Linked DNA regions of Homo sapiens: region 2 is linked to region 1. The links come from fine-mapping of genetic effects on gene expression. A gene starts in region 1. The other region holds a variant in brackets. All regions are shown on one strand. Distances are from middle to middle. Region 1 holds the start of ALPL (alkaline phosphatase, biomineralization associated). Region 2 overlaps ALPL (alkaline phosphatase, biomineralization associated).

The links. PIP is the estimated chance that this variant, and not a neighbour inherited with it, causes the effect. A credible set is the group of variants that fine-mapping cannot tell apart.
Region 2: its variant is the best candidate, but not a certain one, in a credible set for the expression of ALPL in fibroblasts (GTEx, PIP 0.72).

The regions. Positions count from the first base shown.
Region 1 is chr1:21,506,996-21,512,366 of GRCh38, reverse strand. It overlaps ALPL (alkaline phosphatase, biomineralization associated), which reads right to left and starts at 2,944. Exons shown (of 12, transcript NM_000478.6): 1 at 2,850-2,944. RefSeq lists enhancers at 1,861-2,430, 2,431-3,001 and a silencer at 3,037-3,136.
Region 2 is chr1:21,564,691-21,570,050 of GRCh38, reverse strand. It overlaps ALPL (alkaline phosphatase, biomineralization associated), which reads right to left. Exons shown (of 12, transcript NM_000478.6): 7 at 1,804-1,947. Among named protein-coding and RNA genes, the nearest start is that of LINC02596, 19 kb to the left of the region's middle. RefSeq lists an enhancer at 950-1,534. The variant A/G (reference allele first, on the strand shown) is at 2,237.

The sequences.
Region 1 (5,371 bases):
TAATTTTAACCCATATTGCAGATGAGAAAACTGAGGCTTCGAAAGGGAAGGTGACTTGTCCAGGGTCGCATGGCAGTGCTGGGAATGAACCTTCAGTCTACTGCCCCTAACTGCCCTCTGAAAGTGAGGACATCTCCAGAAGAAAAAAAACAAATCTAACATACCACAAAGCCCAGCTCCAGCCTGCCAAGGACGACGACATGGTGCTGGGAAGCCAAGTCAGCATTCCTGTGGCCACATGGAGATTTCTGAGTGCTGGTTCTCAGCCCAGCTTGCTCACTCTCCCAGCAATGTTCTCTCAGAGCTCTGGGTTTTGTATTAAAAAGCCAAGTCAGACTGATTTCAAGGTGAGAACTCGGGCTCTGCTACTGGATCCTACTCCCTGGATTAAAAGGCCTCATATGCCCAGAGATGGGTACAGCATGGAGATTGCTAGATTTGGAATTCTAGATACGCAGGCTCCAGCCCCAGCTCCTCAGGTAGCATCTGTGTGCCTCTGGGCAACTCACTTCCCCTTTCCAAGATCATATCCAGCTTGCAGGGAATGTTGGGTATGTAAGTCATGGGACAGAACAGGGCTGAGTTTGGTCCTGAGCTAGGACACGGTGAGGCACAAGAACAGGCAGAGGGCAGGAAGCGCTGCAGAGATGATGGCTCCAGGGCTGATCTCATCATGGAGCTCTGCGCTCCCAGCCCAGGCTGTGTTTAGGATGGCGACAGAAGGTGGCATCTGAGTGTGAGCAAAGAGGGCACCATGCCACCCCACATGTGTAGCCCAACAGGATGGGAAGGGCCTGGGCAGAAGTGGGTAACAGGTTCAGAGGCAGGGTAGGCACATAACCCAACTTCCAGTCTCCGCATTGCATTTTCTGCTGAGAAGAGAGCTGAGGATAGCCAGGATTTTCTTAAGCACAGGTACCAGCTTAAACCCTTCGCAAGCATTCATCATATCTAGACCTCACCACTGGTAGGCACTATTGATCTCCACAGCTTATGGGAGGAGGCCGAGGCACAGAGAGGGAACAGAACTGATCCCAGGTCCCACAGCAAGGCTGCCTTTGCTAAAGTGAGGGCCAAAGGTTGGCCAATCCATTTTACAGGTGATTGCGTCTTAATCTCCTTCCTTATGAATAGCTTGATTTCAAGTCTACACTGTGAATTCTGACAGTTTCAAAGCCTGAAAGAATTTTGTTATGCAAACATCCAATCCAGAAGAGGGCTTTTGGCTGATTTACTGTGGCATTCCCGGCACCTAGAACAGAGCTTGGCACACGGCGGATGCTTAAGTATTTGCTGAATGAAGATAGCATCTTGTTCTGGCCTCAGTTCAGTTTTATTCCTCACAATAGTCCCGAAAGGGGAATACACCCCTTTTTACAAATGGGCACATGGACCGGGATCATCACTCAGCCTAGTCTTCACCAGTTGGGATGTTGAGAAGCTGTGTCCAGGGGCCTCTTCTGAGGGAATTCACAGGTATTCAGTTAAAGAAAGAAAAAGGTGACACAGGAACAAGATGCATGGGGCCAGGGAGTGGGATGGCTGGGGCAGGACAGCGTGGGGACACCCACAGGTGGGGAGGACTAAACAGTTGGAAAGAGCAAGACTGGAGAGTGGAGGAAGAGCGGGCTGAGCCCAGGAGGAGCCGGAAGACAAAACCAAGGCTCAGCCCCCTATCTCTTAGGCAACACAGTGGGAGCAGGACGCTAGGGCTGCAGAGTTTGGAGTCTGGATTCAAACCCTGGTCCCACCACTTACTTAAATTGTCTAAGCCTCAGTTTCCCCATTTGTAAAATGAAATGATGTACATGAGATGTCAGAGCAGGTCCCTCTACGCACGGTAGGCCTTCAAAAAACAGTTGCAGTATCTACACTGAGGCTGGGACCCAACCCCTGCCTCCCTGGGCAGCTGGGCCCACCTGAGCGGTCTGACTTTTTCCCAGGGCCCAAAGCCCTTCCTGGCCCAAGAATCGCCCCCTCTTTTGATCTCAAGGAATTTCACCCTCCACCCAGAGGCCTTTGTAAAGGCCCCGCCTTCGACCCCATTATGTGTTGAAAAAGAGTCATAAGGCACAATGGGGAGTGGGGGAGGCTTTCCTCGGCCTCCTGCCTTTCTGCTGAGACCTGCGTTTAACCCTTTCTTACCAAGACTGGGCAGGGAAGCAGCCCTGGGAGGCCCACCTCGCAAAGCCTAAAGGGGGCGGCAGGCTCCTTCGGCTTCGCGGGCTCCAGAGCTTTGCCCCACAGCTGCGGTGCCCACAGTGGGTGCCCACACTTTGACACCCACGCGGGTGTCCTCTGTCTCCTCCCGCCACGCCCCCCATTCCAAGCGCCTCCTGCCCTCTCCTCCTCCCAAACCAAACTGCTTTAGACCCCACCGGGTCAGGTGGGACGCCTGGGAGGGCGCCAGGCCACGAGGCCTTGGGGTTGGCAGCCCAGGTCTCTAGAGCTACGGCTAAGGAGGCACCAGGAGGGGCTCAGTCACGGGGCACCAAGGGCAGGTGCCCAGACAGAGCGCAGGGTCCCAGGCAGCGGCTCGGGAGGTAGGAGACCCTGGGACTGCAGGGCGGTCCCGAGCGCGGTCCCCTGAGTTCGCCGGCTCCGCGGGCGCCACGTCCAATCTCCTGTCCCGCCCAGAGCGCGCGCCGGGAGCTTGGGATGCGCGGGAGGACAGGGGCAGGACCAATTGCAGGGCGTCCCGAATGGGCTGCTGTGGGCGGCGTGGCGCTGGAGACCCCGGCCCTGCCATTAAAGTTCAACCACGGGGCCAGCGGAGGATGCAGAAGGGGATGGACCACGTCCGCTGGGGCCCTGGGGAACCAGGGCGCGGGGCAGCGTCGAATCCTTACCTGCGCAGAGCACTGGCGAGGGTCCGTCCAGGCACAAGCGCGTGGGAGCACGGAGCCAGGATAGCGGGCGCGGAGTGGCGGGAGCGCAACGCGGCCCGGGCCACCACCCCCGCCGCCTTATAAAGGCGGCCGCGGGGCCCGAGTGAGGCCCGGGCAGCCCGCCCCCTCCCCCGCCCCCGGCCCCAACCCCTCCCCAGCCCGGCCCCGGCCCCGCCCCCGGCCCGAGCCCCGCGCCCCGCGGGCCGGTCGTGCCACGAGGCCAGGGCGCCCCCTGCCGGGAGCGGAGCTAGGAACGGGCTGGGGTGACGCGGCCCTGGCGTCCCTCGCCCGCCCCGCACTCTCGGTCTCTCTGCCTCCGGGCTGCCCCAGCCCAGCCCTTCCTCTCTCAGCGAGCCTGGGCTCTGACCTGCTCCTTGCGCGCGTCTCCTGTTTTGTCTTTACCGTCGGCATCTTCCTTCTGCGTCTCTTGGTGGGAGTCTTTGTCTCCACCCGTCTCTTTGTCTGCCTTCCTCTCTGGCGTCTGTCTCTGTGTCTGTCAACATATCTGGCTTTCTCTGGGTCTCTGTCTTTATCCGTCTCTGCCCACGTGTCCCTGTCTCTCTGTCTCTGTCCACGTGCACCTCTGACTCTGCACCCCCACCCCCGCTTCCCTGCCCGTGGGCTGCCTCCCTGGCTACCGCAAGAAGAAGCAGAAGGGGACCTCGGAGGGGTGGCATCTGGAGGGAAACCACCCCCTAGACAGGGGCCCTTCCCTCTTTCTCTCTTTAGAGACGTAAAGGGCCCGCAGGTGTCCGGCTATGTCCCAGCCAGAGCCCCAGGACATGCTCCCTGGATGCCAGAGGAGGGGCAGGCACTTCCCAGGCAGTTGAGTCAGACAGCTCAAGTTCAAAACTCTGCTCTGGTGACCTTGGCCAAGTCACTTGACCTATGTGGACCAGCCTGCCCCTCTTTAACAGGCAGACACCATCTCCCCTGGCCTCTCGCTGGTGCGAGAGTCATATGAGACAGTGCTTGAAAACTACAGAGGAAACGCTAAAATCCCGGATAGACGGGAGCCAGGGACAGAGGCTGGGTGCTACAGGCCCTGCTCCCGCTCCTGGGGAACCAGCTCTGATGGAATAACCACTCCCTTTCCTCTGAGCACTGAATTCTCTGGGCAACTTCGCAGTGAGAAGTCCGCAGGCTCTGTTTGAATGCCTCCAGCGACAGAGCTCACTGACTCCTAACAGGAGGGTCTTCTCAGTGGCCCTTGGGAAAATGTCTGCCCAGAGAACCAATTTTAGCCAGGTCAGGCAACCTCTCTTCCACTCACTCCATGCCAGTCTCAGGGCCAGGCACTGTGCATGCATTAACTTCCAAAAGCTCCATTTTCCAGAGGAGAAAACTGAGGCCCAGAGAGATCATGTGACTTCTCAGTAAGGTTGGAGCCAGAACTGGGGCCTGGTGCCAGAAACCAAGAATGTCTTTGTATTTATTTTTGTTTCTTTTGTATTTTTGGTTGATACTGTTTATTTAGAGGCGTGACATAGGTTCCCTTTTCAGATAAGTTTATGTTTTTTAAAAGTGAGTCAAAATATTGAGTAAATACTATTTATTTATGTATTTCATGGGTTGGGTGATATGGCAAAAATCATGGAGGTAGCAAATGAATGGAGTTTAGGAAATACCATCCTCTGTAAGAAATTGCAGGTGAAAGCACCCAGCACTGGGCCTAAAACATGGGAGGGGCTCAATACTTGCTCACAAATGCCAAGGAAGGGTTTAAGGATTCCAGGAGACTTAAGATGGTATCATCATCAGTGAGCCAGGGGCAAGTCCCCAGGCATGGAAAATCTGCCTGTTGCTTGGACAGAGGCTGGGAGGCAGAGCCAGAGGGAATTGGAGGCACCCATTGCACCTATCATGGGGCCAGCACCCCTGACTTTTTTTTTTTTTTTTTTTTGAGACAGGGTCCCACTCTATTGCCTAGGCTGGAATGCAGTAGCATGATGTCAGCTCACTGCAGCCTCGACCTCCCGGGCTCAAGTGATCTTCCCACCTCAGCCTCCCCAGCAGCCAGGACTACAGGTGTGCACCACCACGCCCGGCTAATTTTTGTATTTTTTTGTAAAGAACAGGGTTTTGCTATGTTGCTCAGGCTGGTCTCGAACTCCTAAGCTCAAGTGATCCCCCTGCCTCCTTATCCCAAAGTGATGGGATTACAGGCATGAGCCACCACACCCGACCCTATCCCTGACTTCTGATCTCCCCAAAGCTATGAGGGACGGGCACTTCTGGTTGAGCCACATGGCCAGCATTAGGTCCCCCATGTCTGTGATTTGCCCTCAAGTCCCTCCACCTCGGGATTTCAGGGATTGGTTATCAGCAGCAGGGACTATACTGCTTGGCCAGCCCTGCCACCTTCCACCCTCAAACCCTCTTACTCTGCTCCTGGGCTGGGTCCCTCAAGGAGAATTCAACTGAGATGGGGCATCCAGCAGCCCTTGCCTCCCCTGCTCCCCGGGTGCCCCTCCTCCTGGCTC
Region 2 (5,360 bases), 58 kb before region 1:
CTGGTGGAGGTGATGTTCTAATGGGTCCCTGGAGGACAAGTGGGAATTGAACAGCCTAGGGTCAGGAAGGCTATTCCAGGGAGGAGGGATCATGGGGCAAAGAAGAGCCAGGCACAGGTCTCCAGGGGCCTTGAGTGCTGACAGGTGTGGGCTGTTTTCTGGAGGCCGTGGAGGGCCAGGGAGGAAGCAAAGCCCCAGCTCTGCTTTGGGGACCCCATCTGGGAGGGGAGATAAAGGCGTGGCTGTTTCCCCAGGGAATAAAGTCCACAGAAAGAAGCCAGCTAGGCCAGGCCTGGAGAGGGCACCATGTGGGCCTGGACCAGGGGTCCCAGCACTACCAAGGATCTGCTGTGTGCCCTTAGAAGACCCCCTGCCTTCTCTTAGCAATGACAGTGGGATCAGTGGCTTTGCAAGCCTCAGGGGCTGTTGTGGGGAGGAGGGCAGAGAGGCTCAGAAAGTGGGGCTCCGCACCCCCCCTCCCAGCCCCTGCTTCCTGGAGGTGGCTCTCCTGTGCTCTCTCCCTCCAGGGTTGTTCCTGTTATTCCCTCTTTACAGATGAGGGCACCGAGGCACACAGACCACGTAGCCACTGAATGGTAAAGGTGAAACTGACTCTAAAACCCACTCTTAAGGCATGATTTTCTAGGGATGTGGGGCCTACACGGGACCTGATACCCAATGTGGCCAGGCTCGGGGCCATGGTGTAGACGCTCTCTCCCCGTCTTAGAGGTCTAGACCGAGTTCCTGGGTAAGCACCCTGCCTGGGCAAGGAGGATGAAGCTCTGGCCCCATGTGCCACGTAGAGAAACTGAGGCTGGTGTCTCTCTGGCTTGAGCTTGGAGGGGGCTCTGGCCCAGCCTGAGCTGACTCAGAAGGGATGGAAAGGGTTCAAAGCCACTCAGTTCCACACCCCCACCATCCCCACGGGGGCCCTTCCCTAGTCCCTACCCCCACCTCGTTCTTGGCCCAGCCTCATCCCACGAGGCCTCCCCAGGGGCCAGTCCTGGAACTTGCAGAAACCCAACCCCAGAGTGACATCAAAGTGGCTGCCAGGCTACTCCCCACTGTCTTCAGCCCTGACCACAGTCATTTCCAGACCCCAGCTGCCCCAGGCCCGCAGGCCAGCAGCTCAGATTTAAAGGGCCAGAGGCCACTCCAAGGAGCTGGAGCTTGGGGTCCTTCCAGAGGTCCCTCCAGCCTCCCTTCCCCAATCTATTCCGTCCTCCAGCCTCCCTTCCCCAATCTATTCCATCCCCCAGCCAAGGGGGACTCACTGTGGAGGGCTTCTCCGCTCCCTCCATGGCTTGCACACTGGGGCCAACCATGTCCTCCCCTGATCCATCCAGCGCTGCCTCCTCCCTCCATCCTCCTACTTGCCCAGAGCTTCTTGGCTCCTCCCTGTCATCTGTCCCCCCAGGGCGCCTGCAGAGCCAGGCGTCCCCCATGCAGGCACACAGCATTCCATGTTTCCTTGGCCATCTGACTCAGCCTCTGTGCCTCACGCATGCCCCGCCAGGTGCCTACATACAATAGGTGCTCAGGGTGACTCAATGTCCACGCAGGTTATTCCCTGGCCCAGCCTCCTCCTCACCATCCGCCTCTCTCTGGTATCCCCTCCAAGGGAAGGAAATGATTAGTCACTGACTATCTACTGCTTGTATATCTCTTAGGCCATTTGAGCCCATGGAGGAAAGATTTCCGATGCCCTTTCTACAGAGGACAACAGAACTTCAGAGCAGGGGTCACACAGCCTCTCCCCATCACAGGCCACCTCTGCAGCCACATGGCCCCAGCACAGGCTACCTTGTATCTCGGTTTGAAGCTCTTCCAGGTGTCAACGAGGTCCAGGCCGTCCAGCCTCGTGCCCCTGGCTTTCTCGTCACTCTCATACTCCACATCAGTTTTATTCTTGGGGTACATGTATTTCCGGCCACCCCCCATGATCACCTAAAAGAGACAGGAGCCATCACTTCTGCAGGGTTCCAAGATGCCCAGAAGCCCCAGTGACCTCGGCTTGGAACCTGGACTCCTGGAGTCCCTGGAGATGGTGTGGACACTTTCCCAGCCTGGTGAGCCAGGCCTCAGTCATCTCTGGGCCTTACTTGTCCAGCGTGGGGAGATGAAATCACGAGTCTATTGGGACGGTGGTTTGGCGCTTCTAGGGATATTGGAGGAGCTGATAACTTACCTTACTTGGCTTCCCGGAATCCACAGAACTCCCACTCGAATAAGAATC[A/G]GACCATTTACAGAGCGTTCCCTGTGTGTCAGGCACTAAGCATTTAAGATACATTCTGACTCAACTTCATACCAAGGCTGCAATAAACCCTGGCCACCTGTTTTCCAACTAAAAAAATGGGCACAGAAATTGGTTTTTTCCCCCGAAGGCCACAGAGCCAGGAAGTGGCAGCATCAGGATTCAAACCCAGGGCTTTTCCGGCTGTGGCACTAGGGCCCTGCTGTATTCGTGCAGCTAAGGGCAGGGACTCCCAGAGCCTCCTCTCCCACGGTGGAAGGCTGAATGCGTGCAGGGAGAGGCTCCAGCCAGGGAGGTCTTTGGGGCAGCCCACAGCTGGGAGCCAGCCCACCGCAGCCTGGGCAAACAGCGGGGCCGGGCCTCACGGCTCTGTAGTCACCACCAGGCTAATTTTACCCACCAGCTGGTGTGTGCGGGCAGACGGACGCGGGACTGTTTGTTTTCCTTGGGAGTCCATGTTTGAAGTTCTGACTATTTTTAAAGTAGGGCCAAGAGCATAACAGCAGCCGCCTGCGGTGACCACCACACTAGTGTTCTCTTGTCACCGCGGGTGCCAGCCCGGGCCACTGCCCCTGGCTGACACCTTGGGAGTGCAGAGCCTGGCTGACACTGGCCCCAGATCCACCATTCCAGGCCTGCATCTCATAGGTCCCTTGCTCTATCCTCCACTCTGTCTCCCACCTTAGATCCTAGGTTTTGTGGAATGCACAGGGGGCCAGGAACACAGGATGGCTGGAGAGGTGGGAAAGGTGCCCCAGGACCAGCCTGGGTCCAGGCCATGGTCATGGCCGTGAGCTTTGAAGTCAGACTTGGGTTTGAACCCTGACTCTATCGACTACTGACCAAGGGCCTGCCACCTAAACTCTGTGAGCCCAGTTTTCCTATCCATAAAATGCGACTGGCCAGGCGCGGTGGCTCATGCCTGTAATCCCAGCACTTTGGGAGGCTGAGGCGGGAGGATCACTTGATGCCAGGAGTTTGAGACCAGCCTGGACAACATGGCAAGACCCTGTCTATACAAATAAAATTTGTTTCGAAACTTAGCCGGGCATGGTGGTACAGGCTTGTGCTCCTAGCTATTCAAGGGACTGAGCCAGGAGGAGCACTTGAGCCCAGGAGGCTGAGACTGAAGTGAGCCATGATCACGCCACTGCACTCCAGCCTGGGCAACAGAGTGAGACCCTGTCTCAAAAATAAAATAAAATAGGCCGGGCGCGATGGCTCACGCCTATAATGCCAGCACTTTGGGAGGCCAAAACGGGCGGATCACCTGAGGTCCAGAGTTTGAGACCAGCCTGGCCAACATGGCGAAACCCCGTCTCTACTAAAAATTTAAAAAAAAAAAATTAGCCGGGCGTGGTGATGTGCGCCTATAATCCCAGCTACTCAGGAGGCTGAGGCAGGACAATCGCTTGAACCCGGGAGGTGAAGGCTGCAGTGAGCCAAGATCGCACCACTACACTCCAGCCTTAGAGACAGAATGAGACTCCGTCTCAAAATAATAATAATAAATAAAATGCAACTAACATCCATCCACAGACCCATCACAGGAGGAAAGGCAGTCACCCAGGGAAGTCCCCAGCACCCAGGGGGTGGCTGCCACTGGAAGGCATTTCTATTGCCAGAAGGAGTGGGGAAACAAGTGGTTCAGAGAGGCAGAGTCCTTGCTCTCAGCTGCAGCCAGGAGCTCAGGGGGCAGGGTGGGCTGGGAGAAGAAGGAGAAGGGGACCCCAGGTCACGGGTCCCTTGCCCCGCCCCCCACAACTGTTCCCACAGAACCTGACCTCTTGGCATCTTCAGAGTGGAAAACGAAGCCCCCAATCTTCCTGCAGGGAGCCTCATCGTTTCCAGCCCGGCAGCGACTTCACACGGGCTCATTAAACTCCCAAATAACAGACTTGCTGTTTGGCTTTGGGGTTTAGGTTTGTGTCTTTCTTTCTTTCTTTCTCTTCTTTCTTTTTTTTTTTTAAGCAACAGTATTTATTTTCAGGGTGGACACCAGGATTTTTGTTTCATGTACAGTCTGGGGACTGGGAGGCTTTTGGGGGGGTGGTGACGGAGAGGCAGGTGGGGCTGGGAGAGAAAGGAAGAGGAGGAAAGAAAGGGATCCTCACACAGGTCCTCCGTCCTCACTCACTCCCTGGCTTGTGCCCCTTGACGTGGCCCCTGCGGCCCCCCCTCCTCATCTCCCACCCCCTCACCTGAAACATCTTCCCTCCCCTCGAATTTCCTTCAAGTTCCTGTCCCCTGCTCAGGCTGTCCCTGACAAACCCCTCTGAGGAGCAGTCCCCATGTAATTATACCCTGTGCCTGTACAACAAATGTTCTCACATCCATGACCTCATCACGGCCTCCCACGGCCCTGGGAGCAAGCAAGTGTGGCTCTCTGTTTCTGCTGCACAGGTGGGGAAACTGAGGCATAGGGAGGGGAAGGAACTCGCCCCAGGCCACATGTCGGGTGAAGGCAAGCCAGGATGAGTGGCTTGGCCTCAGATGTCTGTTCAGTGAAAGGGGCCAACAGCACTGTGTGTCCTGAAAGCGGGTACTTAATCCACCATGCTGGGAAAAGGGCAGACGTGGGTCTCTACTGTGGAGGGGCCAAGTAGCCCCCAGAAATTTGTGGGGGGCAGTGCATGGAGGGCTGAAGGCAGGTGAGTTTGTCTGGTGGTGGAGAGAAAGAGGTGAGGTGTAGCTGGGCAGGGGGGCTTTCTCTGCCCCTCACCGAATCCCCATTCCAGGCTCAAGGGGCAGAAGTCCCCAGATCGCCTCAGCAGTCCCCCACAGTAGGCAATAAAAGCCTGAAAAGGAACGAGCCGGGCATTCTCACTTAAGAACAGAGAGTAAGCGTCACATGGATGACTTCTGTCTCCATGAGTCAGCTCAGTTTGTTGAAGTGTGTTTCAGGGCAAGGACATGTGGCTCCTGCGTAAGTGCCACCACCTTCTGGGCACTCGCTAGGCCTCGGGTCCTGTGCTGAGCTCCACAGGGATTATCTTAATCAGTTCTTGGCATAAGCTTATGAGGCAGGTACAGTTCACAAAGGAGTTGTGAAAGGGAAGCCTCAGAGAGGTTAAGTAACTGACCCAAGGTCACACAGCTAGCAACA